3 separate regions of the Homo sapiens genome follow, and regions 1 and 3 are each linked to region 2. Evidence: fine-mapped expression QTL. A gene starts in region 2. Each other region holds a variant in brackets. All regions are shown on one strand. Distances are between the middles of the regions.

Region 1 (10,226 bases), 27 kb after region 2:
CAGGCAGCTCCCAGGACCCCAGACCTCTGCCACGGCCCTGCGCTGACTTGCATCCAGGACCCACTTGGCAGCTTGCGAAGCATTTCTGTGTCATTTGCCTCCTTCTTCCCTTTGACCTCCAGTAAGGAAACATGGTTGGGGAAGTTGAGTGACTGGTCCAGATCCTATACAAGTTCTCCTACATCCCCCTCTGCTGCTCCTCTCTCAGCAAAGGCCAGAATCTCCCCAGGCCCCACTGGAGGTGGCCAACAATTCCCACAGACCCTCCCTCCATGCACCTGCTGCCCAGCTATTGGGCACTTTCACTATGCCAGGCTCTGCACACCTTGGCATTTTCATGGGCTCTTCTCTCTGCCCGGAGCACAGCTTTTGTGACTCTGCTCGTTTTTCCATCCTGGCCTTCTCTGAAGCCCCTGTCCAGTGAGGCTGGCTTGGACTCCCAGGGTTAGTGCCTGTCCTCAGGTGATTCTCACTCTTGTGATTGCTTCTCCAAGGAAGCCCATTGCTGTTGCAAATAACATTGTCCTGGTGTGAATTTCAGAAGTCCATTTATTGGTACTCTGAGAATTTTCTCATTGAAAAAATAAAACCAGCCAGGCACAGTGGCTCTTGCCTATAATCCCAGGACTTTGAGAGGTCAAGGCGGGAAGACCACTTGAGCCCAGGAGCTTGAGATCAGCCTGGGCAACATAGCGAGACTCCATCTCGACAAAAAAATTATTTTTTAATTAGCCACGTGTTATGGTGTGTGCCTGTGTCCCAATTACTAGGGTGGCTGAGGTGAGAGGATCACTTGAGCCCAGGAGGTCGAGGCTGCAGTGAGCTGTGATCATGCCACTGCACCCCAGCCTAGGTGACAGAGACCCTGTCTCAAAAAAACAAACAAAAACCCAAAAAACAAAAAGACACCAAACAGCTGAATTTAAGAATAAAGTATGAAAAGTGCATTAGTTTAAAGCACGCAGTTTGCATCATTGGCAAGGAGGTGGATTTCCGTATTTGGTTAAGCTGCACCCTGGCTTTGAAGACTCATGCTGTCCATGTGTCTCAGTTGTGGAAAGATCAGCAGTCTTCTGTTCAGACCCAGTTAAGCTGGCTGTGTCTAGGAGATGCCTCTGCCATGCATGTACACCCGGTGCTGAGCAGCTGGTGCCCATTGGTGGTCTGCTGTGTGGGTGGGCACATCTGGGAATGGTGCCACAGGCCCCCTGGGTGGCCAGAGTGGTGGATGCTCTTATGTGTCAATCACTGTCACCAGAACTGCCTGAGCCACAGGGAGCCAGGCTGCTGCTCAGCCTGTCTGAGCATTGGAGCTGTCAGCCGCGGCAGCTGCCGCCTCTCACCCCGTATGCTGCACGCCCGCCTGCAGAACATGGCCTGGTCTGCGCGTCTGTCTGCCGTCAGGAATACACAGCAGGAAAGCGGGTGTCTGTCCATGCACACATGTGCATGCAACAAGAACATGCCAGCACATGCCTGCAATCCATCCAGGAGCACCCCACCTACCTCATGCAACCTCTGTGGGCCCAACTCATGTTTTGGTGGCCCTCATGGCCTGCACTAGTTCCAATGAACCCTGTGCTCACCAGGAAGCCAGGAGCTGCAGTTCCAGTCCTATTCCCTGCAGACCTCTCTTTGAAGCCCCTTTTGCCCCATCCCTGGTGACAAGATTCTAATCATGACCAGCTGTCCTTCCAATGAAGGGAGAAGAGGGCACCCTTCCTCCATGTCAGTGAGGGGCTTTGTCTCCTGTCAGTGCAGAGGGCGGGCTGGAGGGCGGGCACTGCAGAGCCAGGCCCTGCGCCTGCAGACAGCTGGGTGGATGCTGATATAGGAATGGAGGAGGAGGAGGACCAGGGAGGAGAGGATTGAGGGGGCCCCCGAGTGATAGCCCATGTGTGCGACCTGACCCGACTCCATGTTCATGACAACCCTGAGGTGTTTGTGCTAGGAGAAGGGTGAAGAAATGGCTCAGAGACTGAGTGACGCACCTGTCATGGAATTACTGACCCCCTCACTGAGATCAGAAACCTGTCATCACCTTAGACAATTCCCTTCTGTCAGCCGATCACCTTAACTGTCCAGATGTATAAGCACGTTTGCCTTCTGAAGTTCCCCCTAGCCTGTCTTCCCCTCGCACCACCGCTGCTCTCCTAGTCCAGGCTCTGGTCATTTCTTCTATGGACCATGAGCAAAGCTTCCCTGGAAAGAACTGACTCTCAGCCTGTTCCCTCATGGCACTACGTCTGCTGCAAACCTAAGGGGTCCCCTTTCACCAAGAGGAATCTGGGTTCCCAGTTATGTCCTAGTCACGCCCGCTGCAGACCCTCACAGTGTGACTCTCAGGTCCTGTACCCAAGATGCTATTTAACTCCATTCCACCAAGTTCACTTCCTGTCTCCACATCACCTCCTCCAAGAAGTCCTCCCTGAGCCCTCAGGCTTGGTTGGCTCTGTCCTCTGTGCTCTGCCGTGACAGAGCGGAACACCCTGTGTGCTAATGAACAGTTTCCTTTTTTTTTTTTTGAGACAAAGTCTCACTTTGTCACCCAGGCTGGAGTGCAGTGGTGTGATGTGAGCTCACTGCAACCTACATCCCTGGGGTTCAAGCGATTCTTATGCCTCAGCCTCCCGAGTAGCTGGGATTACAGGCATGCACCACCATGCTACGCTAATTTTTGTATTTTTAGTAGAGATGGGATTTCATCATCTTTGCCAGGCTGGTCTCAAACTCCTGGCCTCCCGTAAACTTTTTGCTTTAAACTAAAGCACTTTTCATATTTTATTCTTAAATTCACCCACCTCAGCCTCCGAAAGTGCTGGGATTACAGGCATAAGCCACCTCACTCGGCCATAATGATCAGTTTCTATGTGACCCTGCTCTGCCATGAGCTTCTGGGGACAGCGGCGGCTCGTCCTCATCTTTGTTCCCTCGTCCCCAGCACAGGTTCTTGCAGGTGGGAGGTTCTCAGTGAGTGCTCGCCATCAAAGGTGCCCACGAGGGAAGGAATGAGTTGCTCATAGAGTGGCTGAGGGCCTGGTGGCAAGCCCAGTGGAGTCGGCCAGGAGATCTTCGGAGGAGGGGCTTTCGCACATAGGGCGCTGTCTGAGACTGGGGTTGGGAGCCTATCCCTCTTCCCTCCCTGCCCCTCCCGCCTTGGGGATTAACAGAATCCTGAGATGGAGATGTGCTGGCACCCTGCTCCCTGCCTACCTGTCCTCCACCTGTCCATCCCTCCTCCCCTCCATCCATCGCGCATCCTCTCATCCAGAGTTTATCAAGGCATCTGTTATGGACCAGGCACATTACTAAGCCCCCAGAGGCTGAAAGTTTTGGGCCGCTCAGGATAGGACCCTGGGGCTTTTAGGCACCAAAACTCCATATTTCCTGCTTCTTCCTTGATTCCCCTGAAGATGGGTCTAGAGAGTTGGGGAGGTAGAGAAGGCAGCCCAGGCAGCATGGGTGGGTGGGGGTAGGGTACAGACCATGCCTGCTGGAGCCGCCCGCGTGTGCTGTAGATCCACTTTATTTCAGTTCAGGACAACAAAAGGGCAAACATGTCTCTAGGGAGAAAAACAAGGACATGATCCAGTTGGAGGAGAAAACTCACATGGAAGGAAAGTTAGGCCTCTTGTGTGCTGTCCAGACCAGGTGCAGGCGTAGGAAGGGGCACCACGGCTTCTCCAGAGAGACCTCCTCGCGCCTGTTCTCTCTCGCTTCCCTTGTTCCTCAGATGGCTCGCTTCCCTCTCTGCGCCCTCTGATTTCTGGTCAATGCAAAGCCTCTTGCTCCCCTGCCCCGAGGGGCCCGTGGCTGGTTACATGCAAGTTCAATCCCCAGGAGCCAGGGAGGGCCTGCTTGTTTCTGAGCAGACAGTGTGGGGTGTGGCATGGAGCTGCTGCTGGGGGAGGCTGCAGAGCAGCCTCAGACCTGCCCTCCCTGAGAGCTGCCACCTGGGTAGGGGCCGGGGTGGCTCTCCACCCTTCCCCACCGCAGTGCCTGCTGGGGCCAGGAGCAAGGGCCACGCAAAGGGCGGCAGAGATGGGGAATGAAGGGGAGAGAAGCATCGGGCAGAACAGTGGCTGCGAGCCTGGCTGACCGTGGAATTCCACAGGAGACTGAACACAGCCTCCTGGGCCTGCTTGGGGTTTCCGACTCAGTGGGTCTTGGCTGGGGTCAGCTTTGCTGTCTGCCCCAGGAGGCCATGGCCCTTGTTTGGTACCCACTTCCTAGGAGTCATGAGAGCCGAGCTG[G/T]CTCTGCCTGATTGGTAAGAATAAAGGGGAGAATGTCTGAGTAAGAGCAGGCGAGCCCTGGCTCCTCCAGGTCTCAGAGGAGCAGAAGCTGAAGATTTCTGGAAAGCACTTGCCCTTAGGGTGGAGAATCGAGGCTCCCTCCACCTCACCTCCAGCACCACAAGCAGGGCCTGAGGGTGGTGCACAGCAGAGGAGGTCCCTCATGGCCTGAGCTGGGTGGAGAAAGCACAGGACCAGGCAGATGGGCCTTCTTGGAGCAGTCCCTGCCACTGCGTCTCTGCTCCCCATCACTACCCTTGAAACATGCCACTTTCTCCCCAGAGAACAGCAGGATCAATCCTGTTATCCCTGCGCCATCCTATATCACCTTCCTCATGGGACATTTGGAGGGGACAAGAGGATAGGACCATGAGTATGACCATCCTCAATCTAGACCCAGCCTGCCTGTCCCTTCCCTGCTGTGTGGCCTTGGGCAGACACTCAGCTTCTCTGGACCACTGTTTCCTCATCCAACAAACGAGCCCTGCAGAGATCCTTCCCCTGGGACTGGGCTCTGAGCTCAGAGGATGCTCTGTCCTGCAGCCTTCCAGCAGGGAACCTTCCAGCAGGGAGCCTTCCTGGCTTTCATAGTTTCTCCTCGCCTCGGCTGGGTGCCTGGGATTCTGCCAGACCTCAGACTCCAGACTGTGGGAATGGTCACCTTGCGGGGACCTGCCCCTCCAGCACCCAGGGCCATTCTGCTATTTTTATCTGCCATTGGTTAATCTGTATCATTGTGTAGGCCAGCCTCTCGGTGCAGTTTTGCCGCAGCGTGTTACCAACATGAGCTCAGATGGTGACCTCACATAGTGACCTCAGTCCAGTGGAACTGCCCGCCAGGCGGACAGGCACACGGAATTTCAGTTTCCAGTAAAGAGCATATTCTCATTATTTTCAGGAACCTTAAAATGGCTAATAGACATCATCAGCAGGGATTGAATGCCTGTTAAAGTAATTATTAAAGTAAAATCAAGTGTGTTTACTTACTGGCGGTATCACTTACAGTGACGTACACAGATCCTGAGCATTCAGCTCCATGCGTGTTTACTTATCCAGCCCGTAACTACCGCCTGGATCAAAACTAAAGTACTCCTACACCCCAGAAGCTTCCATCCTGCCCCGTCCTGGTTTCTTACAGCAGGGTCTGGCCCAGAGCAGGACCTCCTCAGCCAGTCGGCAAGTGCACTGTAATGGGACCTGGGGTGGCAGAGTCGGAGCCGGGGAGGTGGGCAAGTCCCAGAGAGGCTTCCTGAAAGAGGGGGGCTGCTCCACAGAACCCAAGTGTTAACTAGAACAATGGTGGTTTTACCATGCAAAGGAAACAATAAGGCACTTACCAAAGCTGCTTTCTGCCCTCCTGAGTCCTAGCCCTGAGGTTTGTGGCTCAAGACCAGGTCCATCCCCATTTCTGAGTGGCTGTGGAGTGTGGTTCTCTGAGCCTGGCCCCCAAGTGCTGAGACCCTGAGACCAGGCAGCTGTCTCTACCTTCCGAATGGGAGTGTGATCTCTGGCCTGTGACCGCATGGCAGACTCAAGGCCTGAAGGCGTCTAAGAGCTGGGGTTGTCTGGCAGCTGGTGCCCGGTCCTGGCAGCCGCCTGCTCCTCCTGACAGTGGTCATTTCTTGAACACAGGGCACAGCTGCCCACAGTAGCGGGGGCCTTACCACTCTGTCATTGGGGAAACCTGCTTCTCAACCACCTTCGCTGGCCTGCTTTTCTCCCCTGGGATGGAGGACCTGTCCTTCCCTTGGCCGTGTGACCATCTGTTAGAGATTTCAGAAAGACTTCAGCTCCACCTGCCTGGACTGCTCTGGGTGGCCCCCTCCAGGACTTCCCTGGTCCCTCTGGCCTGGTCTTTTCTGGCCCATGGCATCCAGCCCCTCCACTGCAGGGCCCAGCGCCTGTGTCGGTCTGACCGGACCACCTGGACACTTGTGGGAAATCCTCACCTTGTGCTTTGTCTGTGATTCTCCAGCTCCAAGAAGCCCAAGAAACATCCCAAAGTGGCCGTGAAAGCCAAGCCCTCGCCCCGGCTCACCATCTTTGACGAGGAGGTGGACCCTGATGAGGGGCTCTTTGGCCCGGGCAGGAAGCTGTCTCCACAGGACCCCTCGGAGGACGTGTCATCCGTGGACCGTAAGTAGAGCCCCATGGTCTGCTCCTGGTGTCCTCTCGGTGCCCAGCCCCATCACCAGGCAGGGTCTGGACTCACCCGGCGTGAATAGGACCCATATATCTCCCCTGTCCTGTTTAGATGTGATATAGACTCAGCTTTGTGCTTCCATGACATCTGTGGGCAGATGTGGGCCCTGGGCTTCCAGGCACTGTTTGTGTGGTAAGCGATAGGGCCTGCCTAGGGCACATGTGTGACTGTAGGTTTGGATTTAATGGGACTCTGTGTCGCCTGCATGGACTCTGCTGGAGGGCTCTGTGCAGAGTTGGCAGAGGGAAAACCGAGCGGCCTTGGGACATCTCCACTCATCCCTTGGTCCCTTTCCTCACATGCCCAGGTCGTCCTCCGGTGAGGGGAATTGATGCCACCCACTAATTCAGCCCATACTTGGTGAGCCCTCACTGAGGGCCAGGCCCAAGAACATGCTGAGGAGTGAGACCTAGTCCCTGTCCCTAGTCCCTATCCCGAGGGCCCCGGGGGCCCCTGGGGAGACAGGTCATTGCCTGACAGTTACAAAGCAGCACCAGTTATGACAGGTTGAGCAGAGGCATCAATTCCTGTAGGACTGCCCAGAAGACTTCCTGGGGTGGGGCAGAGAGAGAGCAGCCATGGCATCCCAGCCTAGAGGCTTCCTCTGACCCCCCTGCTGCTGCCTTCCCACAGCCCTGAAGCTATTTGATGATCCTGACCTCGGCGGGGCCATCCCCCTGGGTGACTCCCTCCTGCTGCCAGCCGCCTGTGAGAGTGGAGGGCCCACACCCAGCCTCAGCCACAGGGACGCCTCCAAGGAACTGTTCAGGTACCACCTGTCCCCAGCGGCGCTTGGCCAGCTCTGAGAGTGTTCTGGACAGAGCCAAGGGCCCGGCTCATTGCCCAGTCTCAGCCCCAGCCTCCTCTGAGGGGAGGACCCCAGGCCTGTGAAAAGTAGAAGCCTGTGGGTGCACATTGGGTGAGAGGCGGTGAAGGGGGCTGAGGGGGAGGATCCGCAGCCCAGGGCTGCTCAGCTAGTTCCAGAAAGAGAGAACTTTGTGTGCACAACCAGTCTTTCTTTTCACAATCATATTTTAACAGTTTATGTAAAGAATAATTAAATTATATAATTGCAAGAGCAGGTATAACTGGCATAAGCAAGTTTGGGAACAAATTAAACGGACTCATGGCAGCATGCAGCCCACCCAGCGAGGGGGCAAAGTGCAGATGTCTTGGTGATGGCCTCTCTGCCGGAGGGCCCGGTCGGCAGCTTTCACAGAAGGAAGGGAGAATGAGGCCTCAGCTGTCACATGGAGGTCAATTGGCAGAACCTGTGCCGGTGACAGCTCCTATTTCCTGAGTCCTTGCTGTGTACGCAGTAAGCCAGACTCCTTACACGCTCTCTTATGTAATCTTCACGACAGCCCCCTAAGGTGGATGCTATTTTCTCCATATTATAAGAAATCAAGTGTGGGACGCCACCTGGCTAAGACCCCTGCTCTGCCCCTGGCCTGGCCTCTCCACTTCATCAGGGACTGTCTGAGCACTTGGCTGGGTGATCTGCCTCCCCACCCAGCCCCCCAGTTCTCCCCAGGCCTTTACCTCCACTGGCCACATTCTCAGCAGACTCAGTGTTGTGCGTGTCTCCAGCTCCCACTCCATGCTCCAGGACACAGGACTGTGCCTGGGATTCAGAGGAAGCCAGGCCGCCTCTTTCCAGGAACGGCTTATGTGACACCAAGGCATGCAGGCCCTGGAGGCTGTCATCTGTACCCCTCATTAGCAGCCTCGGGCTATTAGACAGCCCTGCAAGTGCCCGCCAAGCCTGAGTCACCGTGACGGCTTCTGGTATTTACATGTCCCCAAGGCCCCTGGCATCTGTTCACTCTCATCCTGTGTCCTCGCTCCTGACATCCCAGCGGGCTGGAAGAAACCAGGATTGTTATTTTATTAGAGGGAAACCGAGGCACAGGGAAATGAAATACTAGAGTCTGCCTGCGGAGCAGCAGGGCCAGGCCGAGCATGTCTAGGAGTCCATGTGTCCCAGTGGGGTGGCTCTCGTGGGACCTTTCTGGCCTAGTTTATTCTAAATCCGTTACTTCCCAACCTGTGTTCTGCAGAACGTGGTACAGTGGGGTGGTCAAAGGCTATCTTCAAAGGGGCTCTGTGGCTGATGAATTGGGGAAATGCCACAAAAAGCAGGGCTCGTAGTGCGCGGGCCAGCACCACATGGCACTTCACGTTCTCATTCATCCCTGGGCCCCCCACTCTGTGGTGCCCCTTAGCATCCCGCAGAGCGCTTGGGGAGTCCCTGCTCAAAAAGTGTGGGTCCCGCACCCCCACCTTCACTTTAGCAGACATCTGCTAATGAAAGGATTAACTGCTTTTCTTTTTTTTAAATTCAGACAAATTCAAAAAGAGCCGTAACACTGGGATTAGCTTCTTGAGAGCAGGAACCACATTCATTCTTTGTGTCTGCCCTGTGACTATCCAGGGAGTAGTTGGACTTCCTCATAATAAAGAATGTTCTGATAGCCATTCATTCATTCATGCTTTCACCCCTTCGTTCATTCTGTCACTAGCCTCAGCCACCCTGAGGCCGCGTGGGGTGTACACTGAGCGGGTCGAGGCTAAGAAGGCTTTGTTCCTTCTGGCTGTGCAGCCACACCAGGGCAGGGCCTCTAGTCTAGATGTTTAGGTGAGTCTTGTCTTCCGCAGGAACCCAGGGAGAAGGAATGGGGCCAGGGTCTTAGAGCTCCCTTACCCCCCACTGGTTGACCTCACACCAGCTGGGCCTGGAGGAGAAAAGAGCTGGACCTTGCGCTAGTGAGAGCTAGTCCTAGTCATGACTCAGAAATAGGGTGCTTGGAAAAGGGGTGCCTTGCAGCCTCCTGTGTCCCAAGAGCAGCTATGCTGCCTCCCACCGTGGCTGACCACCCGTGTACACCACCCACCTGGGAGCAAATCCAGCTGCTGATTAGTTCCAAAGAGTCACTGCTTTGCCAAGCAGGCTAATCCTGAAATCTGACATAAGCCTCTAGCGGCTGCTTTATTTTCCAAAGGGCCCCTATTTGAGGATAATTCAGTCCCTTTGAGCTTTTCCCAGGTACCCTCAGCCTTCAATGGAGGCTGCATCATGCCAGTGGAGCTGGCACCTGCCCTGGGGGAGTCAAGGAAGGGCTGCCACTTGGAGGGAGCTCCGGAACATCTGACCTGAGGTGGCCAGGAGCAGACTGGCCATGAGTGACACCTCCTGAAATCACCTCTACCCCAAGACAGCTGGTCTGTCTATGAAGGCCCGGCTTGGGCCAGTCCCTCTGGGTTTGTTCAAGAAGGACACCTTTTATTCATTTCTCTGCCATCCAAACAGACTCTGAATTCTCTCTCTGGGGTTTGTGCCCCATCACAGGAGGTTGAGCCAGGAAGCAGGCAGGGTGTCCGGAGCTCCTTCCACAGCTGGCTCCAGGCAGGCATCCACCCCTGGGGGTGCTGTGCTGGACACCTCCATACTCACACAGGCTCTCTGGTAGTGCCAGGAGTTGTCCTGATCAGAGGTATCGCCTCTCTATCCCCACCCCTGCCCGGCCCTGCCCCAGGGCAAGAAGCCGCTGCTCATGAGCCTGCCTGGTTCTTCCTGTTCATTCTCATTCCCACCTCCAGACCTCTGCTGTCTGCTCCCTTCTTCAGAATTCTCTCCCCTATTCATGCCAGGCTCACCCTTCTGAAAAGACCCACCTTCCCAGGAGGCCTTCCCAGCCTGCTCTGGCCCAAGGGCTCACTCCCTTCTCTGG
Region 2 (10,226 bases):
GCTTACTTACTCTGCAGCTGCTGAGAAAGCTGGCAGCCTGCAGCCCTGCTTACCCTCTCTGAAGACAGGGAGGTGTAGCACCCAAGGTCAGGTAGCCTACATCCAGTGACTTGTCAATGTGGAGTGTAAAAGCCCCATCCCCACCTCCTCCCAATTCAGGATGACCTGGCAGGGCCATGCCAGCTCCGGAGCTCCCCCTGCAAAGGGCTGCGGCCTCTGCCATGATTGCAGATTGCATCCCAAGTTAGCACTCTCTGCCCAGGTAATTCCTAAAAAACTTCCTGCCCATCACCAGTCTCCATCTGAGCCAGAATCCCACCTGTGAGACTAGGGGAAGGGGTCACAGATGTGGTTATTAACCCTTCAACATTTCTGTGCCTTTGAAACATTCTCAAAATAAAAACTTAGGGGAAAAGTAGTTAAAAGACAAACAGGACACCATTTATCACAAAGGGTTAGTATCTTTAATGTGTAAAGCATTCTTACAGATCAACAAGAAAAAGACAAATGGAGCAAGCTTTTTCTCATGTGCAAAGGAAATAAACAGGATAGTCGCAAAGAAACAGAAGACCAACAAATAGGAGAAAGATGCTCAGCCGCACCTGTAATCATATAAATGTACTTAAGCAAGAAAGAGCATTTTCACTTCTCACACTTGAGAGGATGTAAGAAAATGAATCGGGGCTGGCGAGGTTTGGGGAAGACGTGCCTCATTCAGCTTTCCTGAGCACAGTTTAGTAGAGTGCAGATGTAAACCCATCTAATGCATCATGTCTCTGTGCTTCCAAGTTCTGGGACTTTCTACAATATCCAAACAAAATAGCTGGATTTGCTGTGCCTCAGGCAAAGATTCCTGAGGATCCCTAGAGCCTCGCTTCCACAGTCAGTCCAAGCTTCCTGACTCCTGTTGACTAGCCACTTCCAGGACTGTGGTGCACTGAGTACTAGACGCCATTTCCCTGAGACGAGGGTGCATAGTAGGCCCTGAAGGTTTGAGGTGGGGCGTCTTGGACAGAGCAGAGCAGGACTCAGTGGAGCCACTAAATGCCACCCACCAAGGTCTGCAGCCTTAGCTGGCCTGCCCTGGGCCTCCTCCAGGCGGCTGGGCCCCACGCCCCCTCCACAAGCCAGACCACCACCCAGAGCTCAGGAGCCGCAGGCAGACAATGCCTCCCAAATTCCTTTACAATGCAAAGCGATGAAGCACTGTCTCATTTCTCCCAATCTTCCAATCTCCTCTGCTGTTCAACAATAGCAATGCACACTGAAAGACTCAAGAAACAAGTTTCCCAAACAAGTTGGCACTTTTCTCCCAAGCCTTCTTCCTAGGGATCTGGCCTAAACACCAGCCAGCACTTCAAAGATCATCCACCCCGCTCAGTACTCCTCCAGTGCACCAGCTTTCCATCACATGTACACAGCTTAAGGACCAGAGAAGTCAGTTATTCTCCATCTGCATATGGTATTCTAAGGAGCCATTTAAAATTATGGTTTTGGAGGTCATTTTACATGGAAAGATGTTTACAGGATGGTAAATGAAAAAGCAAGTTACAAAATAGTATAGCTATTAAGATTCTGTATTATTTAAAAAAAAAGACTTATGTATAGGCATAGAAAAAAATGTCAGGAGAGAAGGAACAAAAAATTAGTACAATTGTTATATCTGGTATAGAATGAGAGGCGATTTTTATTTTTTAATTTTACTATCCCTATTTTCCAGCTTTTCTACCATGAGCATGAATTATTTCTACAGAATGGTTCCAAAAATTGTCTGCTTGTCCCCCTCTGGAAGAGGGGGCCCTACTCCCTTCTCCCCTTCCCACCTCCTGTCCCCTCCTCCACCCACTGGGACACTGCCCTCCTCGAGGCCAGAGAACACTTTTCTCTCTTCAAAGATTCTCTTCTTGACCAAACTGAGCTTTGAGCTCCTGAACCTTCTCTTAGACCTATGCATGCACTTCCTTGTAAAATCCAGTTTTAGGAAGAACGTGGCTAAGTCAGGTTACCAACATCCTCCCACCCTGCCTATCTGATCACCCTCGATATCCAACTGGGTTCCCCCTCCTCCACCATCCCCAGGTGATGTCTGACCATCCTGGCCCATCTTCAGCAAGAATCCTGTTAGGTCGGCATAGCCAGAGTCCCCCCATACTCGTCTTAGTAATGTTCCAGCCACCACTCCCACCCTGTTCCTTGGCTATAAATTCCTACTTTCTCATGCTGCATTCGGAATTTAGCCTAGTTCTATACTGGGGTCTCTTACCCCTATTGCAGTAGTCCCAAATAAAATCTGCTTTCACCACTTTAACTACTGTTCAGTTCTGTGGGGTTTTTTTGTTTGTTTTTCTTGAACACCTCCTTATCTTCCTGGATGTTCAGCAGTGTTTGGCATTGCTGATCACACCCCAGTCTCTTCCTGAAACACTCTTTTCCCTTTGTTCTGTGAGCCCACTCCCTCCTTCTTCAGGATAAGATGTGAGCTCCTTTGCATAGCGCACAAGGCCCTCTATGCTGCGGGAACACAGGCTCCTCTTGCCCTCTGCTGCCTCCTCTCCCAGCAATCCTTCCACATATTCTTCTCACCAGCTCCTCAGATACGCTCTGGTTCTATCAAGACGTACTAGGCTGAGCATGGTGGCTCACACCTGTAATCCTAGCACTTTGGGAGGCTCAGCAGGGCAGATTGCTCGAGCCCAGGAGTTCAAGGCCAGTCTGGGCAACATAGGGAAACCCTGTCTCTACAAAAAACACAAAAATTAGCTGGGCATGGTGGCACACACCTGTGATCCCAGCTACTTGGGAGGCTGAGGTGGGAGGATCACCTAAGCCCAAGGAGGTTGAGGCTACAGTGAGCTGTGATCATGCCACTGCGACAGAATGAGACCCTGTCTCAAAAAAAAAAAAAAAAAAAAAAAAAGACAAGCTGCCTTCCTAGTACACATTTTACCTCTTTTCTTCCTCCTCCTCAGTCATCCCTGCATCCCCTATGGAGCAGTTTTTATGTCAGGCATTATGTAAGTACTTTACAACTACACCAACAGGAAATCCACTGCAGAAAACCCCCACTTAGAGTGATTTAGGCATTTATGCAAGGAGAACTTTGTAGAAAAAGTCCAGGGCGTGTATGCAAGCTCATATGCCATCAGCTCCCCAGGCTTGTTCATCCCTAACATGGTAGACTCCAAACTCATGTCTGTGCCTCCTGCTCCCATGATGGCTGCTGTGTCTCCAACACTGTATCCCCTTCCCAGGTAGAAGACAAGGAAGGAGCGAAGAGTTTTCTCCTAGCAAGATAAATCCTCCACAGGGACTTAAGTATATGTGGTCAGTTATGTCACATGGCCCCTTGTAACTGAAATGGGACATGTGTTTTACTTCTCCAGCCTCTATGGTAATAAAAACCAGGAAGAAGGGGGTTGTGAATGGCTTCCGGTTAGCTCATCACCAATGCCTGCCATACATTTCATCTTGTTTCAGTCTCATTTTACCTCATGTAATTCAAGCAATGTTATGATTTAAAGGTTTCTGTTACGTGCATTTCACCAGTGAGAAAATCAAGTCTCAAAAAAATAATACCTACTTTTTACAACCCAGGTCTGCCATCACCTCCTCCTGGCAGAATTCTTTGTATGCCCAACCCTAGGCTGAGTTAGTTATGTGCCCTCCTCTGTGCACCATAGCACCCTAGGCGTGCATCCTTGTTGAAATCTCCAGCTGTCCTAGAGTGGCCTGTGAGCCCCTGCAGTGGGCTGTGAGCCCCACAGGATAAGGCTCTGTAGCCCCCAGGCCTGGGGAGATAACAGGCCTGGAGCTGTACCTATGAGTGTTTGCTGAGTGACAAGCAAGGTGGTGGCCCTGCTCCATGTGGATGTGCCCAGACCCTGGAGCTCTAAAGTATCACATTAGGGAACAGAGACAAATTATAAGGTCCCAGAAGACCCGAGCCACCATGGGAAACGTTGGTGCATGGCTCAGCCAGAGTTCAGAGCACCCCCTGCAGGCTGCGGGTGTCTCTCAGTGACCACAGTGTCCTGAGGCCCAGTGACTTCCTGGGTGGAAACTGAGGCCTGGAGTGTTCCTCCCAGGGCAGTGAGAAAGAGAGAAATAGAAAATCCTTTGCAATGTGGTTTGTGTTACCGCAGCTTCAGCCATGGAAGGGGCTCCTTGAATTAAACAGGAAGCAGAAAATATCAGATTTAGATCCCACATTCCATGCATTGTATACAATTACGCGCTGGAGCCATAGAGGGGCACGTGGGACCCACAGAGGCAGAAAATGGGATTGCTGTTGGGAATGGGGTCGTTCTTTCATGGGAAACCAGTTGCATTCTTGACAGGTGGGCCGAGTCTTCCTGAGGTGCACACTTCACAACCCCAGGGGCACAGGTGAGGCCCTCTCATTTGCTTACAAGGCATTGGTGACAGACATGCTACCAGCTCCCACAATGATGGAGAGTCCCCTTCTCTGCAGCCCCCCAACACCGCTGCATATCTCTGGATTGTAGACCATCCTTGGTGGGCTCACCCCAACTCTCAGGCTCAACAGCCTCCTTTTTACCCATGACTCCTATGTCAGTCTCCAGCCCAGGTCGGCTTCCTGAGGCCCAGGGCCATAAACCCAATCGCATCAATAGGTCCAGCCCTTCAAACACTGCCTGTCTGAAACAGAACCCATCATCCTACCAAAAATATGCTCCTTCTCCAGGTGCCCTGCCACAGAGAATGATACCAATGTCCAGCCACTCACAAGAGCCAAACCATAGTGGTATCTTATCTCTTCCCGCCCACACCCATTGGATTCCCAAGTCTTGACCAACTCCTTCTCCTAAGGCCCTCTTACCCGTCCCCTCTTCTCCACCTGGGTGGCCATCACCCTAGTTCATGGGACCATTGTCTCTTGTCTGGATTGTTCTGCAGTCCAGCTCATCTTCATACCTTCAACATGCTCCAAAACCCTGCCCACGCCCTAGCTGGCCCAGCCACTCCTATGTCCCTGACCCTCTGATGGCGCTGTGTTGGCCTCAGGATCAGGCAAAGCCCTGGCCTTGGTGCACTAGGCTGTCCACACCCTGGCTCCTGCTGGCCTCTTCCCCCTGTTCCCTGGTGTTCCTATCCTGTCGCTAGGGCTTTGCACGTGACATTCCTTCTAATCTATTCTATCCATATTTCTTCAGGTTTTCCCTTGGACTTCAGCTCCTTTAGAAAGCCTTTCCAGACCCCCACCCACTCCCCATGTAGGAGGGCAAAGAAGTCCACTGAAGGCATCTAAAGTGTCTTATTCACTGTGTTTCTGTCTGTTGGATAAATGTGAGTGCAATGGTGACTGCTCGACTGCCTGGCACTACACTCAGACTCCTGGAATGCTGAAGCCTATACTGCTTTCTGTCCAGACCCTGAACTCCCTTTCTCTAAAGTAGGGCATGCCAATTTAAACAAAACACGGAGGACCATTTGCAGCCATGAACACGGCCCTGCAGACGGACAGGCCGATGAGCAGCAGAGCAGACAGGGGTTCCCGCCATCATCCCAGCTCTTCACTGCAGCCTTCAAGGGTCTCCCTCAGAACTTTCATTCATTGTCATACTTCATTCATGATTGCTCATCTTGCCTATAAACAAATCTGAGACAAATAATAAGGCATATCAATGTCCGTATTTATTCAAGAGATACATTGGGGAAAGTCATTTTTCAAAATCTTTTACTGTAGGATTTCTTCACTAAAATCTGTAAAAACTGGTAGATATTGTTGGTGATGCTGGTGGCGGTGGTTGATAGGCTCAGGAAACATGGCTGACATCGCCCTGCCGTGAATTCTGGTATAGTTAAGCCCAGCTTCTCTTTCTTTTTGTCACTGGGGCTCTGGGTGGAGGGAGTAACAGAACAGGGGCAGCAGTTTGCACCTTCTGCTGGCCCTGTTTGCAGACTCAGCTTTTCTTTCCCTGGGCTACGTTGGCAGGTGATACGATCTCTCTGTTCCTCACCCCATGGAGAGGTGAATCTAAAATGAGTGGGTCTGTTAGGGTCTGCATGTCTGTACGTTCCCCTTCTGAGGGGAACTGGCTCCTGGACCCCGTTGCCCTGCTCCAGCTGGGGACCCAAGTGCAGCCATCCCAGGCAGGCCCGGCCCCGGGAGGCCTCCACCAGGGCTCTGCCAAGCAGCAGAGGCTGCCTCTCTAAAGATCCCCTGTCGGGAGAGTGCCTGCCATTTATGGAGCGGGCAGGCAGTAGGAACCAGATAGGCGAGCTAGCTGGAGGCAGCAAGCTCAAGGGGACTGGGCTGCTGCGTGGCGTTCACTGTGCAGCTTGAAGAAGACCCCACGAAGCCTGGACAGAGCCCCAGCTTGGTAAATATTTGTTGACCGATCGGTTGAATGAAATGGTCTTGGGGCAGAGGGGGAGTGGTTTTGTAATGGGGACTGGCGGCGGAAACAGCAGAGTCCCGTCTCTCTAACGGCTAAACTTTAGCGCAAAACAGACACACCGATTAAGGTTCACCGTGTGCCAGGGCCAGGCTGGGCTTCTTCTAGGTGGTTGCGGCGGGCGCGGCTCAGCCTGGGTGCTCCGGAAGCTCCGAGCAGCGCAGGCCGACGGCGACCGTGCGGGACCCGCCCAGCCGCGCTTCCGCCCCGCCTCTGGCCACAGGCGCGAACTGCGCGGCCGCTGCCACCAGGGGGCAGGCCAGGGCAGCGGGAGGCAGGGCGGGGACGCGGTGACGCGGGCACTGCCGGGTCCCGTGACTGCGCGCCCCGCCCGGAGTCCCCGCCGCCGTCATGCAGTCCCCGGCGGTGCTCGTCACCTCCAGGTGAGCCAGACCCCCGCGCCCCACACCGCACAGCTCGCAGTCCGGGGCGCCCGGGCGGAGAGGCGGGGGGAGGCCGCCGCCTCCTAGGCCAGGGACCTGGTGCAGGTCTCCCCAGCGCCCTCGGTGGCTTATCCGGGCTGGGCCCCTGCACCGCCCTGCAGGAGAGGTGGCGACCCCGATTTACAGATGAGGAAACCGAGGCCCTCTGGAGGGTAGAGAACTAGCCAAGGACAGCGGGAGCCCTGGGACTGACTGGTTCAGTGCAGGCGGGCGCAGTGGGGACTCTGCTCTCCTTTCCTACCGCCTTGGGTTCTTCTCTTTTGAGCCCGAAAATCTAGTTCCCCATCCTTTCAGAGCTCCCTGAGTCCCAGGCCCGGTGCTGGGCACTGGGGACAGAGGCGAATCAGACAAGCTCGCCCTGCAGGGGGCTGCAGCGGAGAGGGGGTGATGCCAGCAGCGGGTAGTAAGCTCAGGTTGCCATGGGAACACAGTACAGGGCAGGAACCCGGTTTCTGGGAGGATGAGTTTGATGAGAGACCAGGGAGAGGTCGTTGCTGCTTGCGAGGCAGCTCAGGAGAGCGCAAGTTACAGCAAAAGCCTTGGAGGGGTCCAGGCGGAGGATGCAGAATGGGTCGGCCCTGATCGAGACCTGGAGGACCCAGCCCAAGGTGGATCCTGGCAAGGCTGGGAGGCACGTGCTTTTACTTCTTTCCGCCTTTAAAACGCTGTAAAGTGATTTACTTCAAATATTTTCATACACTTCACCCTTGCTCTCCCTACACAAAGTCTTAGGCTAAGATGCCAATTTATGACATAAATGAACGTGTTACCCAGCCAACTGTTGATCTTCCAGTTGTAATCAGGAATTCCCCGTGACTTCAGGTCTAGAAAGGTATGATTCCTTTTGTAAACCCTGATGTCGGAGGCTGCTTGGTCTTTCATGATCAAGTGTGGTTACAGTTGTATCTTCATGGGCAGAAGAGGTTTCCCTACTGCCACTTACGTCACCTCCTCTCACCAAGCCTCAGTTTCCTTTTCTGTGAATTGGAGGTTTCAGATTGGCAGGCATGAGCAACGTCAGTAGTATATGCCCCTCAGCCATGTGCAGATGGATGGGGTGTGACTTTGGTGCTGGGTGCTTGGGATGGGGTGGGTGGCTTCCCTCCCTGCCCCGCTGCACAGCCTGGACGTGGCTTGTTAACAGATGTGGGGGCGCTGGCGGTGGTAAGGCCACATGAGTCAGGCTCATTTCTTGCTGAGGGCACCAGCACACCCAAGGATCTTGCCTGCAGGGTGAGTCCAAACGCCTTAGCCCAGCAGCAAGGCCGGCCCTTCCCAGTCGCACCCCAGCTCCTCTTTCCAGCCCGATCTCCTCCCACATGTCATTGCCACATGCACTCAAGCTTGAATTCAGCCAGAAGGTGTTTATCGAGAGCCTTCTCTGTACCGGGTACTGGCCCTAGTTCTAGGAGACAAACAAGTCCCTCTCGTAGAGCTTTAATGAGGGCACAGGCCCAGTGGGCAAATCTACGACATGTCAGGGATGATACATGCTATGAAGGAAAACAAAACAGTGGGGGCAACAGAGTGGTAGGAGGCATGCATGCTGTTTTCTATGGTGTGGTAAAGAGGCATCTTTCTGATGGAGTGGCGCCTGGACAGATCCCGGACAAGCTCCATGAGGGAGAGAGCCATGAAAAAGAAATCTTGGAAAAGTGTGTACTGGGAGGACAGGACAGCAGGAGCCAGGGTCCCGAGGCTGGTATGCTGGAGTGGAGTGAGCCCAGGGAGAGTGTTAGGTGATGCGGTGAAGAGGCAAGCTTGGGAGTGAAGGATGATCAGGAAAGGCCGAGAAGGCTGTGGAGGGGCCATCAGATTTAATTTCAAGTGCAATAGGGCCCAACTTCTGGTTTATAGAGATCCTTTGGCTGCTATGCTGAGCATGGGCAGTGGCCGAGCTGAGCATTCAGGACAGGCTTGTAGGTTTCCATGTAGAGCCGGTGGTGGCTTGGCCCGGGGTGATGGCGGCCGTGAGGGTGAGAAATGTTTGGGTTCTCGATATATTTTGAAGATTGAGCTTTCAGGTTTGCTGATGCTTGGATATGGGGTGTGAGAACAAGAAGAGAAGTTAAGACTAACGGCAAGTCTCTCAGCCTAAGCTGCTGGAAGAATGAGGCTGCCCTTTAGCAGGCTTGGGGAGAGGTAGAAGCAGCATTTGTGTAGACAGGTGAGTTTTGAGAAGCTCGTTGACAGCCCAGTGGGGATGTCAGGCAGCTGCAGCTGGAAGGAGGCTGGCTGTGAGGGGAGAGTGAGCTAAAGATGGGAGTTGGGGAGCCATTGGCTCGGAAATGGTATTTAAAGCCTGGAGCCTGGATGAGATCACCTGGGGAGGGGTACAGTGAGAGGAAGAAGGAGGGTGCTCTGGATGCTATCAAGGGGAACCATCCAAAGCAGTTCCTCTCCTCCTGTTTGAGCAAGAGTGGCCAGGGTGGGCAGAGAAGAACCAAGAGTGAGGGGGTGCTCCAGCCACCAGTGAAGGCAGAGCTTGAAGGAGGGGAGTGGCTGACTGTGCCCACTGCTGCTGACAAGTCAGACCAGAGGAGAAATGAGGATTCACCTTTGGATTTAACCACATGGAGGTCGCAGATGACCTGGGCGTGGGCAGTTTGTTGCATGATGAGGACCAAAGTCTGGCTGGAAAGGGTTCAAGATCAAACAGGAGGAGAGGAACCCATGAATATGGGGCCCTCTGTTGAGGAGTTCTGCTGGAAAGGGCAGGAGGGAAACGGAGCAAGGGGAATGTCGGGTCAAAGCACAGCTTTTGTTACATGAGTGGTCAGAGCATGGTTGCATGCTAATAAGCGTGGGCCAGTAAGGAAGGAAAATCGATGGTGCGAAAAAGAGGGGTGAGCTGCAGCAGCTATGTCCTTCAGTAGGTGGGAGGGCCTCGGAGCCGCTGCCCTGGTAGAAGGTTGGCCTTAGGAGCAGCCAGCCAGTTTGTCTACAGTCCCAGGAGAGGGCAGCTATCAGGGAGCAGCTGCAGGCTGATGGGCAGATGTGACAGCGAAGCCTAGGATGTTCTCCGATGGTCTCTGGAGCAGTACACAGCAGTGTCCACATCACTTGGGAATTTGCTAGAGATGGTGAGGGCACACCCCGGGGCCTGCAGAACCAGAATCTGCATATTAACAGGATCCCCAGGGGGTTGCACGCACATTACAGTTGGAGAAGCTTGGTCTAGGGCACATCCTGCCCACCACACCCCCATTTGTTTATGTACTCTCCGTAGCAGCTGCAGCAGAGACCAGATACCCTACACAGCCTGAAATATTTGCTATCTGACCCTGTAGAGAAAGTTTTCCTATGGGTTCAGGGAAGTGGGAGGGTGATGGAGTAGGCCCAGGTGCATCAGACTCGTCGGAGG
Region 3 (10,226 bases), 52 kb before region 2:
TGGTAACTCTGTATTTAATATTTTAGGGAACTGCCAAACAGTTTTCCAAAGTTCCTGTACCAGTTTATAATTCTAACAACAAGACATGAGGGTTACAGTTTCTCCACATCTTGTCAACACTGGTTATTGTTTGTCTTTTTTTATTATAGCCATCCTAGTGAAGTAGTATCTCATTGTGGTTTTGATTATATTTCCTTGATGACTAATGATGTTGAACATCTTTTCACATGCTTATTGGCCATTTGTACAGATTGAATATCCCTTATCTGAAATGCTTGAGATGAGAAGTGTTTAGGATATGGGATTTTTTTTGGATTTGGAAATATTTGCATATACATAATGAGATATTTTGGGAATGGGACCCAAGTCTAAACACAAAATTTACTTATATTTTATATACACCTCATACACATAGCCTGAAGGTAACTGCACAATATTTTTAATTTTGTGCATGAAGAAAGTTTTGACTGCAACCCATTACATATAGTCATGTGTGAAATTTTCCACTTGTAGCATCATGTTGGCACTCAAAAAGCTGAATTTTGGAAGATTTCAGATTTTATGTTTTTACATTAGGGATACTCAACCTGTACATCTTCTTAAGAAGATATTTAGAAATGTCTGTTGCAATCCTTTGCCCATTTTCAATCAGATTGTCTTTATTATTGATTTGTAAGAGTTCTTTATATATTATGGCTAGAGATCTTTATCAGACATATGATCTTTTCCCATTCTTTAGATTGTCTTTTTACTTTCTTGATGGTGTCCTTTAAAGCATAAAAGTGTTAGTTTTGATGAAGTCCAATTTATTTATTTATTTTTGTCACTTGTGCTTTTGATGTCATAGTTACAAACCATTCTGTAATCTAAGGTCACAAAGATGTATTTCTCTTTCCTACTGAGAGTTTTATAGTTTTAGTTGTTACATTTAGGGCTATGATCCATTCTGAATTTATTTCCTATGTCATGTGAGGTAGTGATCCAGCTTCCTTCTTTTGCACATGTATATCCACTTGTCCAAGTTCCAGTTGTTGAATGTTTATTAATTTTATTATCTTTGTCATTTCTGCATCAGTTTTGACTGATCAGTTTTTCTCCTCATTTGGGTTGTATTTTCTTGCATTGCATGCATGATAATTTTTTATTGGATAGCTTACATTCTGAATTTTACCTTGTCAGATGCTGGATATTTTTGTACTTCTATAAATATTATTGAGCTGTGTTATGGGACACAGTTTTGTTATTTGGAGACGGTTTGATACTTTCTGGTCTTGCTTCTAGGCTGTTAGTTGGTACCAGAATGGCATTTGGTTTAGGGCTAATTTTACTCCACCACCAAGGCAAAAACCTCTCTGAGTTCTCTAGTTACCAGTCCCCAACCTTTTTGGAACCAGGGACCGGTTTTGTGGAAGACACTTTTTCCCTGGACCAGGCTGGGGGAATGGTTTGGGGATGATTCAAGCACATTACATTTATTGTGTACTTTATTTCCATTATTATTAAATGTTAATATATAATGAAATAATTATACAACTCACCATAATGTAGAAAAGTGGGAGGGAGCCCTGAGCTTCTTTTCCTGCAGCTAGACAATCCCATCTGAGGGTGATGGGGGACAGTGACAGATGATCAGGCATTAGATTATCATAAGGAGCACGCAACCTAGATCCCTTGCATGCTCAGTTCACAATATGGTTTGCACTCCTCTGAGAATCTAATGCTGCCAGTGATCTGACAGGCGGTGGAGCTTAGGCAGTAATGCAAGCAATGGGGAATGCCTGTAAATACAGATAAAGCTTCACTTGCTTGCCTGCTGCTCACCTCCTGCCGTGTGACACAGTACTGGTGCTGCTCTAGTGGATGCATTGTTGGTTGTGACGTTCTCTGGTGGACTGGTAGAAACAGTGACTATTCTCAATTCAGGGATTATTCCCTCTAATTCTTTCAGATGATTCCTTCACCCAGCTTCTCAAAATTTCTCATACAATTGTGCTGATCTGCACCTAGCTGAAATTCAGGGGGTCCCCTCTGCAGATCTCTGGAGCGTTCTCTCACTCACTACAGCTTTCTCCTTCTACAACTCTGCCCTACCAAAAACCACTGCGGTAGCCTCCCCAAACTATCACCTCTATCTCCTTGATTACAAATGCATTGTTTTAATCAGGTGTGTTAACATGGCAAGCATGGAGACAACTGCCTTTGAAAGAAGAGCTACTTAGAATTCTTGAAAGGAGGGGGCATTGCACACTAGGCAGGGCCTCATGGGGAAGCACCCAGTTGGGGAAGGAGGCAGAAGGAGCACAGGAGAGCATGGCCCAGAGCCTTCATTGTGGTCCCCATGGGAAGGAAGGGATGAGGCAGTTTAGGCAGCTGAGCAGGTTTAGTTAGGATTGGCTGGTATGAAAAATTTTGGTGGGCTTTGAGCTATAGGAGTAGTTCCTAGATGTCTTGTGTCCAGCCCTGAAATAATTCCCAGCAGGATTTAGAGTGATTTAGAGTATTTGGCTTGTTGTGTGAGAGTTTTCTAAGGGAGGTGGTTGGTGGGTATGGCCTTTGGATTGGTTGTTTGCTCAATATGAAAGAAATGTTCACCGTGGAATCATTTGCTATCTCTAAGAATTTAGCTAGTCATGGGAGGGGCAGCCTCTCCCCGACAAGCAAGGCCTCCAAGATGTCAAAGCATCATAAAATGAAGACAATAAAAAACAATTAATGCACTTATCAACTGAGGGAGATTACCAAGCTCTGCTTGTACTTCTCCTTCTTGCACTGTAGCCTGAAAACTTTTCAAATGATAAGCTGAGACAATCATAAGACTCCTCTCATTCGTTTCTCTTTTCTCAGGGATTGCTGTCTTTTTGTTGCCCAATATCCAGTGTCTTGAAAACTTTTTTCTTCATGTATTTTATCTTTTTTTTTTTTTTTAGTTGTTTCAGGATTTTAGGTAGGAGGGTAAATCCAGTCCCTCTTACTCCATCTTGTTCAGAAGTAGAACTATGGAAAATCATTTCCATTTGAAATTAAAATTCAGTTGAGATTTTTGGGAACCAATAACAGTTTAAACAGGTTTGGCTTCTATATCGATAATTCAGCAGTCTTTATTAACAGATTGGAGTGTTAGAGCAAGGTAGCGAAAAGACAGAGCATCTAAGCCAAGACAAAGGATGGGTGGGAAGACTTCAAGTAGACAGAATGCCATGAACAAAATGGCTGAGGATGCAAATTTTATGTGTTTAGAGGATAAGTAGCTCACATTCACTGGAAAGCATGAGTCTTTAAATGAAGCCAAGCTTCAACATAGGTTGGGATCAGATTTTGTAGAGAAGGCTAATGGGAGTTATAAAGAAAATGAGAATTTCTCTTTCAATAAAATCTGTCTTTTCCTCATGGTGTTCCCCAAACTTTTTTTTCTCCTAAGCCCCCACTAATATTCATTTTTCATTCCTTCACCTTCTCCTAATATCTAATCCATTTCTTAGCTCTGTAAGGTCGGCCTTATTTGTAGCTCTAGAAAGAACTTCACTGCTCAGTAAGGTAGACATTAGCCATATGTGGCTATTTAAATGTAAATGAATTAAATAAAATTGAAATTTCAGTTCCTTATTGCCCTGGCCACATTTCAGGTGTTCAAGAGGCACATCTAGCCAAGGGCCTTTGTATTGGTTGGATAGCACAGGGAACATTTCCACCATCACAGAAAGTTATATTGCATAGCACTACTCTAGAATGTGCTCAGAGGCAAAATTTTAAATTTCATATGCGGTATAACTATGTGAAAACTAAGACTTAACAATAAAATTTTAAAGATTTAAATGAAGTCATCAAAATAGTAATATTGATTATTTTTCACTAAGTTCTTGCTAATCATTTCTTCTACTCATATAATTTCTGCATTTTATATACAGAGCACATGTTTATAGTAGGAAAAATTATGTCTTTGATCATTTATTCTTTTTCATACTATAAGCACTTTAAGTCTCATTCTCTCCCCCACTAGACAATATAATAGTATTCTAACTAGTCTCTTAGAAAATAATACAAATTGAAAAAGAGAAAGGCTATAGAAGAAAAATGACAGAGGATTAGTCTAAGAGAGCCAATACCCTACTAGTAGGAGTTCCAGAAAGAGGGGATGGAGAAAACAGGGGAAGAAATTACCAAAGAAATAATAAAAGAAAATTTTCCAGAAAGAAAGTTGGTAAGTCCAAACAGTGAATGGGCCCACTGGATTTCCAGTCTAATTAAGGAATAGAAGACTTGTATTAGGGCATATTCCTATGAAACTTCAGGATTCTAGAGCTAAGACAGCTGAGTTTGAGGATAAGGAGATGGGATAGGGGCAGG[A/G]CAAAGGGAAGTAGTCACATTCCAAGAAACTAAAATTGAAATCATAAACCTTGGATGCTGGAAGATAATAAACTTGAGGGTAAGCCCCTTTCAGCTTAAAATTCTATATACAGCCAAACTATGTGATTCATGTGGGAAAAGAAACAAAAATTAGACATGTAAACATCTATAAAAATTCCTGTGTATCTTTTTATTAGTTACTGGAAAATGTGCTTCAGTAAAGTAAGGGAATAAACCAAGAATGAGAAAGTCATGAACAGAATCCATAAAACAGGGAATCCAGTCCAGAGAAGTGGCAAAGGGAAGTCCAAGGATGACAGCTATGCAGCAGGCCTGGAGAGCAACCCGTCCAAGATTGGATCAAAAGAATGGAAGGCTCTGTGGGGGGAGGGACAGAATAAATGAATTATTGGATGTGTTTGTACATTTGGGAATAAAATCTGATGCATTTTTGAAGAAAGAATTTTCATTGTCTACTCATGAGAAAAGAAAATCAAGTAAAGGCAACAAATAATTCTAGGAAAGACAAAATGATGTACAAAGAAAGAAACTATAACCTATTTGAAAGGGAGGCAGGGAAGTGAGAGGAGAAGAAAGGACAGGCAGATCACCTGGGATTCCATCAACCAGAGATAACGTGTTATTATTTTATTGTTTATCTTTTCAAATAAATCTGTACCATACACATAATGTATCTTTACAATAGTGGGATCATACTGTACTATTTCATGGTTTGTTTTTTGTCAGTTACTATTATTTTTAAATATGTATTTGACATTATATATTCTGCAGGATAATTTTTAATAGGTTATAGAATAATTAATTTAGTGAATAGACCATAATGTATTAATCAAATCTCTGTTGCTTTAATTTAGTTGGTCCTTATAAATTCCCTGAAATATAGTAAAACAAAGACAGTTCTGATTTTGGAACCGGGACTTAGAGTCTTATAGTCCAGCTTCTTAGTATATAACTGCGACTAAATATCCTGTTCTGATTTAGGAGATTAGGCCAAGAAAATGCAGAATATTTACTCCTATATGTACTCATGCTAATATCACAGACAGACAAGAATGATTAAAGTGCTACTTTTTAGGATTATATCATGGCTATATTTAAGGGAGCATCTCCTACCCTATTCTCTGTCTAGAGTGCTGCTAACCCAAGTATCTGCATGGTCCATTTTCTCATTTCATTCAAGTTCTTCTCTGTTCACACATCCCCTTATCAGGGAGGTCTTTTCAGTGAATTTTACATAAAATAGGCCACCTCTGTCACTGCACAGACTTATCTCCTAAGCTGATTTTATTTTTCTCCATAGCACTTTCTCACCATCTATCATCCCAACACTAAAATATAAGCTCAAGAATAGTGTTTCTGTCTTGTTTGTTGCTCCATCTCCAGCGCCTAAAATAAGGCCTGGCATAAAGTAAGTAGGTGCTCAGTCATCTTTGAATGAATAAACAAATGAATGAGTTAATTAACTGGGACTTAGAAAACAATAGGAACAACCCAAGAAGGCAGTGAAGGGAAATTCTAAGTCGACAGTGGTCCAGGTTAGAGCAGAAGGTCTCAGGGTCCTGGAAAGGAGGTCTCCAGGAAGAATTGACTCAGAAAAATATTGAGTAGAGTTAAGAGGGAAAAAAAGGTAACTGTAACGAAAACAAATGTTGGAGGACAGAGAATGGAAGTGTAAGAGTGGAAGTGTGGTTCTAGATACCACTTGGCTCAGCAGTGAACAATATTCAGAAGTAAAGGTGTAAGTATATTATTTAAGTAAGAATAGAATAATTCAAAATAAGATATAAACATGTTGAGAAGATGGCAGGAAGGAATGGTAGGGCTGTAAAAGGGAGCTAAATCCTCATCTTTCATAGCAACTCAGCAAGGGTAATCAATAAGTTATCAAGAAATGACAAGATGATCGTAAGTGTTTAGAGGTTTGAAGATAACTGGTGGAAGGACAGCTAAAAGAGTTCAGAGAGGCTTCCTCTAGGAAACGGGTCTAGAAATGGGAAATGATGGAAAAGAAAACTATGGTTTGGCACTACAACCATTTCTGTGATATTTGATATGAAACTATATATGTGTATGTGTGTTACCTTGATAAAACTTTAAACAAGGAAAGCAGAGGCAAAATGTAAAAATTAATAATCTGGGAGCTGGGTGCGGTGGCTCATGCCTGTAATCCCAGCACTTTGAGAGGCCAAGGCAGGCGGATCTTCTGAGGTCAGGAGTTCAAGACCAGCCTGACCAACATGGTGAAACCCTGTCTCTACTAAAAATACAAAATTAGCGGAGTGTGGTGGCGCATGCCTGTAATCCCAGCTACTCTGGAGGCTGAGGCAGGAGAATTGCTTGAACCTGGGAGGTGGCCGTGAGCCACGATCGTGCCATTGCCCTCCAGCCCGGGCAACAAAGAGCGAAACTCCATCTCAAAAAATAATAATAATCTGGAACTAAAATTCCAGATGGTTGAAGCAACAGGGATGGAGGCAGGATGGGAGGAAGGCATGGGGAAAGTGCAAGTATGCTAAGGTCATGCCTTGTTTAGATGAGTAATTCCAGACAGCAAGAGAAAATAAAAAGTAAGTTTGCAGTTTTTAGGTAAGGCTAACCACTAGATAAATAAAAATGGAATTTATACTTTCAGATTGTTAATGAAAAGAAATTTGTTAAATCCTGGGTGGGGAGGAAAATTCATCATTCACACTAAAGATAAGAGGCAGAAATAACAAGAAAGCGTAGGGTATATAAAGCAAGATGACTGGCGTCAGACCAAATAGCTTTGATCTCAATATATGTGAATATGTTTAGTCCTTCTATTTAAGAAACAGAGACTTTCAAACTGCATTTTTAAAGAAGTCCACTTACATGATTTCAAGAGACATACTTGAAACAAAATGACAAAAGATTGAAAATGAAGGGAAGGACAGATGCTGGCAAAAAAGAAAGCAAGATAAGAATAATAATACCAGCCAAAATGGAATTCAGGGTACAAAGCATTGAATGAAAATTTTCTTACCAGTACAAGAAAGCCACATAAACTCATGTTATCTCTGGCGTTCTTCCTCTTTCCTAGGTATTTGACATCTTGAAAGTGAGCATCACTTTGCTTATTTTGCAGCCAGTGTAATGGGACTAACCCTATTGAAAACTCCTGGAGAACTTTAAACGTATTTTTAAAGATAAATAATCCTTTTAGTTGTTTCCTTTAAAAAAAAAAAAGCCAGTATATTTTCATGTTAGTAACTGTTTGCATTTTCTTGGTATACATGATTTATTGGTAACAATTTGTACTTCTAAGCCTTAAATCGAAATAGCACATATTGGTCTGGTAAAATTGCACACATCATCTGCTGTGGTATCTGACATTGGGCTGTGGCACTGTTAAACTTTTGCTATGGAGAAGCCAGATGAGGTTGGAAGAAGGTTCTTTTAAATGAAATGCTCTTGTTTCCAGAGACTGTGTGCATGTTGCCTGACTCACATTCCTCTGTTGGCCTCACCAGTATCTCTCATCAGATAGCACGTGCCAAAAGAAAGGAGGAACATGAATTTACTAAAATTAATTTGAAATTTGTGTTTGTTCTATATATTCTAAATGTTTGACTTTTTATTTTTTAAATGTAGCTAATGCTGCCTACCTTGGGGGCCAAGAAATGATGGAGGTGGTGAAGAGAGATGACGAAACCATAAAGGAGCATTTATGTAAGGTAATCACTTTAGTGCTGCAAGGGGATAGATAATAAGTAGATGGGCAGAGATACGAGGGCAAAGGACTAGAACTAGTTAGAATCTGTAAGACTTTAAGGGTTGGTAGAATGACATAGAGTTCTACTTCCAGTTAAAATTGAAATTATCCCTGAAAGTTGTGTAGAGAGTAGTAAAGCTAATTGCATAATAACTTATTTTTTTATCACCTGTTTTTGTTGAATTAATTTTAGAATCAATACTTTTCTATTTTGTCAATGCATTTTAGCCTCTCTAGGCCTTCTACTGAGAAAACTCCATAATATTTATAGAATAAATAATGTTGGAATATAAATGAAACAGTGGAAAATACATTATATGTTATATGATCTCATGACTAGTGAGCCTTTCTTATTCTCTAATGTGTTAGAGTAGGAATGTCCTGCTCTGACCCTAAGACCAGTTTTGTGAAATATTCAACATTTGGGAGTTATGCTGCAAATACTAGAATCTTGCACACACACATCTGGAAGCACCAATCTCTGAAACTATAAGAGTAGGGTTTAGTATATGTCTAAGGTCACCCTAGAATTTGGATGACTGTGGTACTCCTGTGGCATCATTTGTCTGGCTGTCCGTTCTGAGTAGGACAGAACTGTACTAATATTATAGCCACTAGCCACATGTGGTTATTTGTGGCTAGCCTTAATTGAGTTGTGCCATAAGTGTAAAACACACATTGGATTTCAAAAGTTTAGTTCCCCCAGAAGCAAAGTATTTCATTAATTTTTATATTGATTACCTGTTGAAATACTACCTTAGATATAGTGGATTAAGTAAAACATATTATTAAAAGTAATTTCACCCATTCCTTTATAATTTTTTAAACATTGTAACTAGGAAATTCTAAAATTGCATATGTACCTTGCTTTATGCTTCTGTTGGACAGCATTAGTCTTAAACTTTACAATTGGTGCTGAACTATGATACCTGCTGAAATGATCCCTGCTGAGTGGCAAACTCTCATAGGACTCAGGAGCAATCCACAAGTGAAATACGAGATAACCCACTGGACTTAGAATGTCTTTATAAACCTTGATACATTTGACTTAAACTTTTCTACATTGTTAATTCTTAATTCCATAACCTCCCAGTACAATTATCTTAAAACGAGAAGTGTATATGTTCTTAAAATTTTTTTTTTAGAATATTGAAAATATTCACCCAGAGAGGACTTTTGAAAATGCCAGTGTTGTTTTGTCTCATGGCCATAGTGGTCATCATATTTCTGAAATAGCAGTTGGCTAGAGATTGAAATTTGGAAACCAGAAGGAAGCCCTCACTAGCCGAAGGGAGAGTGCTGGGGCCTCAGGAGGGCCCCCTCTCCAGGGCTTTCAGCTACTTCCAGTCACTGAGCGATGTGAAAATACAAGAAAAACAGTATTTTATTTTCCATTTAAACTGTAAGTGAATCTGTTTCAAAAATGCATTTAAGTTCTTCCAGGTTGGGAGTTCATAAAAACAGCTCAACTCTCAGTTAATAATAAGACTGGCAGATGCTCACTTCCAAAATTCACACTTGCTGAACAACTAGACCCATCATGTGTCAGAGTCTGCTTTACCACCTGTGGAAGCCAGCTGCTGTAAAATACTCATCATTTCTGGATTCAGCTTGTGTGTTGTGCTCAGAAAAAGGTCAAAGAAAGGTGCTAACTTATTCCTGTCCCAAGTGAAATCCATATGCAAGTGTAATCATTCCCAGATAGAGGGCTGTTCATGGTAATTATGTCAGGACTGTAAGTTTACTGAAATTTTATGGGGAAATACGGGGGTGTAATGGTAAATGGTAGACATTTCAAGGTTAGTATTAACACACAGTCACAGGAATAAACTTTTTCAACTCCAGGCAATAGTTTTGTTTTTGAGATAGCATTAAATATACTTCTAGAATATGGGGAAACAAAGCATTGTTTCATTTAATCATGCAAAACTACCTTGCAGTTAATTCATTATCCTTTCTACCAGCAAAATTCAAGCTCTCCACTAGAATAATACAATTACAGCTCCTAAGTGAAACTAGGTACAGAGAGACAGGAAGTTTATTGCAACTTTTTGTTTCTGTAATAAAAAGAGGAAACATGCTGTAATTTAATATTGGTAGAAGTTGAATCAACATATGTCCCAGTCTG

Which allele goes with the higher level. Alleles are on the strand shown, and positions count from the first base shown. SD is a standard deviation of normalised expression in the study named. Not every link is listed here.
With allele G in place of T in region 1, the expression in aorta of the gene that starts at base 6,736 in region 2 is lower (small effect, 0.19 SD a copy in GTEx).

Evidence for each region. PIP is the estimated chance that this variant, and not a neighbour inherited with it, causes the effect.
Region 1: its variant is the best candidate, but not a certain one, in a credible set for the expression of HS1BP3 in aorta (GTEx, PIP 0.81).
Region 3: its variant is the best candidate, but not a certain one, in a credible set for the expression of HS1BP3 in whole blood (TOPMed, PIP 0.71).

The regions. Positions count from the first base shown.
Region 1 is chr2:20,620,934-20,631,159 of GRCh38, reverse strand. HS1BP3 (HCLS1 binding protein 3) reads left to right here. Exons shown (of 7, transcript NM_022460.4): 5 at 6,268-6,428; 6 at 7,129-7,264. Among named protein-coding and RNA genes, the nearest start is that of HS1BP3, 25 kb to the left of the region's middle. The variant G/T (reference allele first, on the strand shown) is at 4,254.
Region 2 is chr2:20,647,608-20,657,833 of GRCh38, reverse strand. It overlaps HS1BP3 (HCLS1 binding protein 3), which reads left to right and starts at 6,736. Exons shown (of 7, transcript NM_022460.4): 1 at 6,736-6,802. The coding sequence starts at 6,771. It overlaps LOC105373466 (a long non-coding RNA gene), which reads right to left and starts at 6,552. Exons shown (of 2, transcript XR_001739320.2): 1 at 6,482-6,552; 2 at 5,634-5,859. RefSeq lists enhancers at 6,318-7,055, 7,140-7,289, 7,310-7,389 and a silencer at 6,470-7,059.
Region 3 is chr2:20,699,404-20,709,629 of GRCh38, reverse strand. LDAH (lipid droplet associated hydrolase) reads left to right here. Exons shown (of 7, transcript NM_021925.4): 6 at 7,978-8,060. Among named protein-coding and RNA genes, the nearest start is that of GDF7, 37 kb to the right of the region's middle. The variant A/G (reference allele first, on the strand shown) is at 4,345.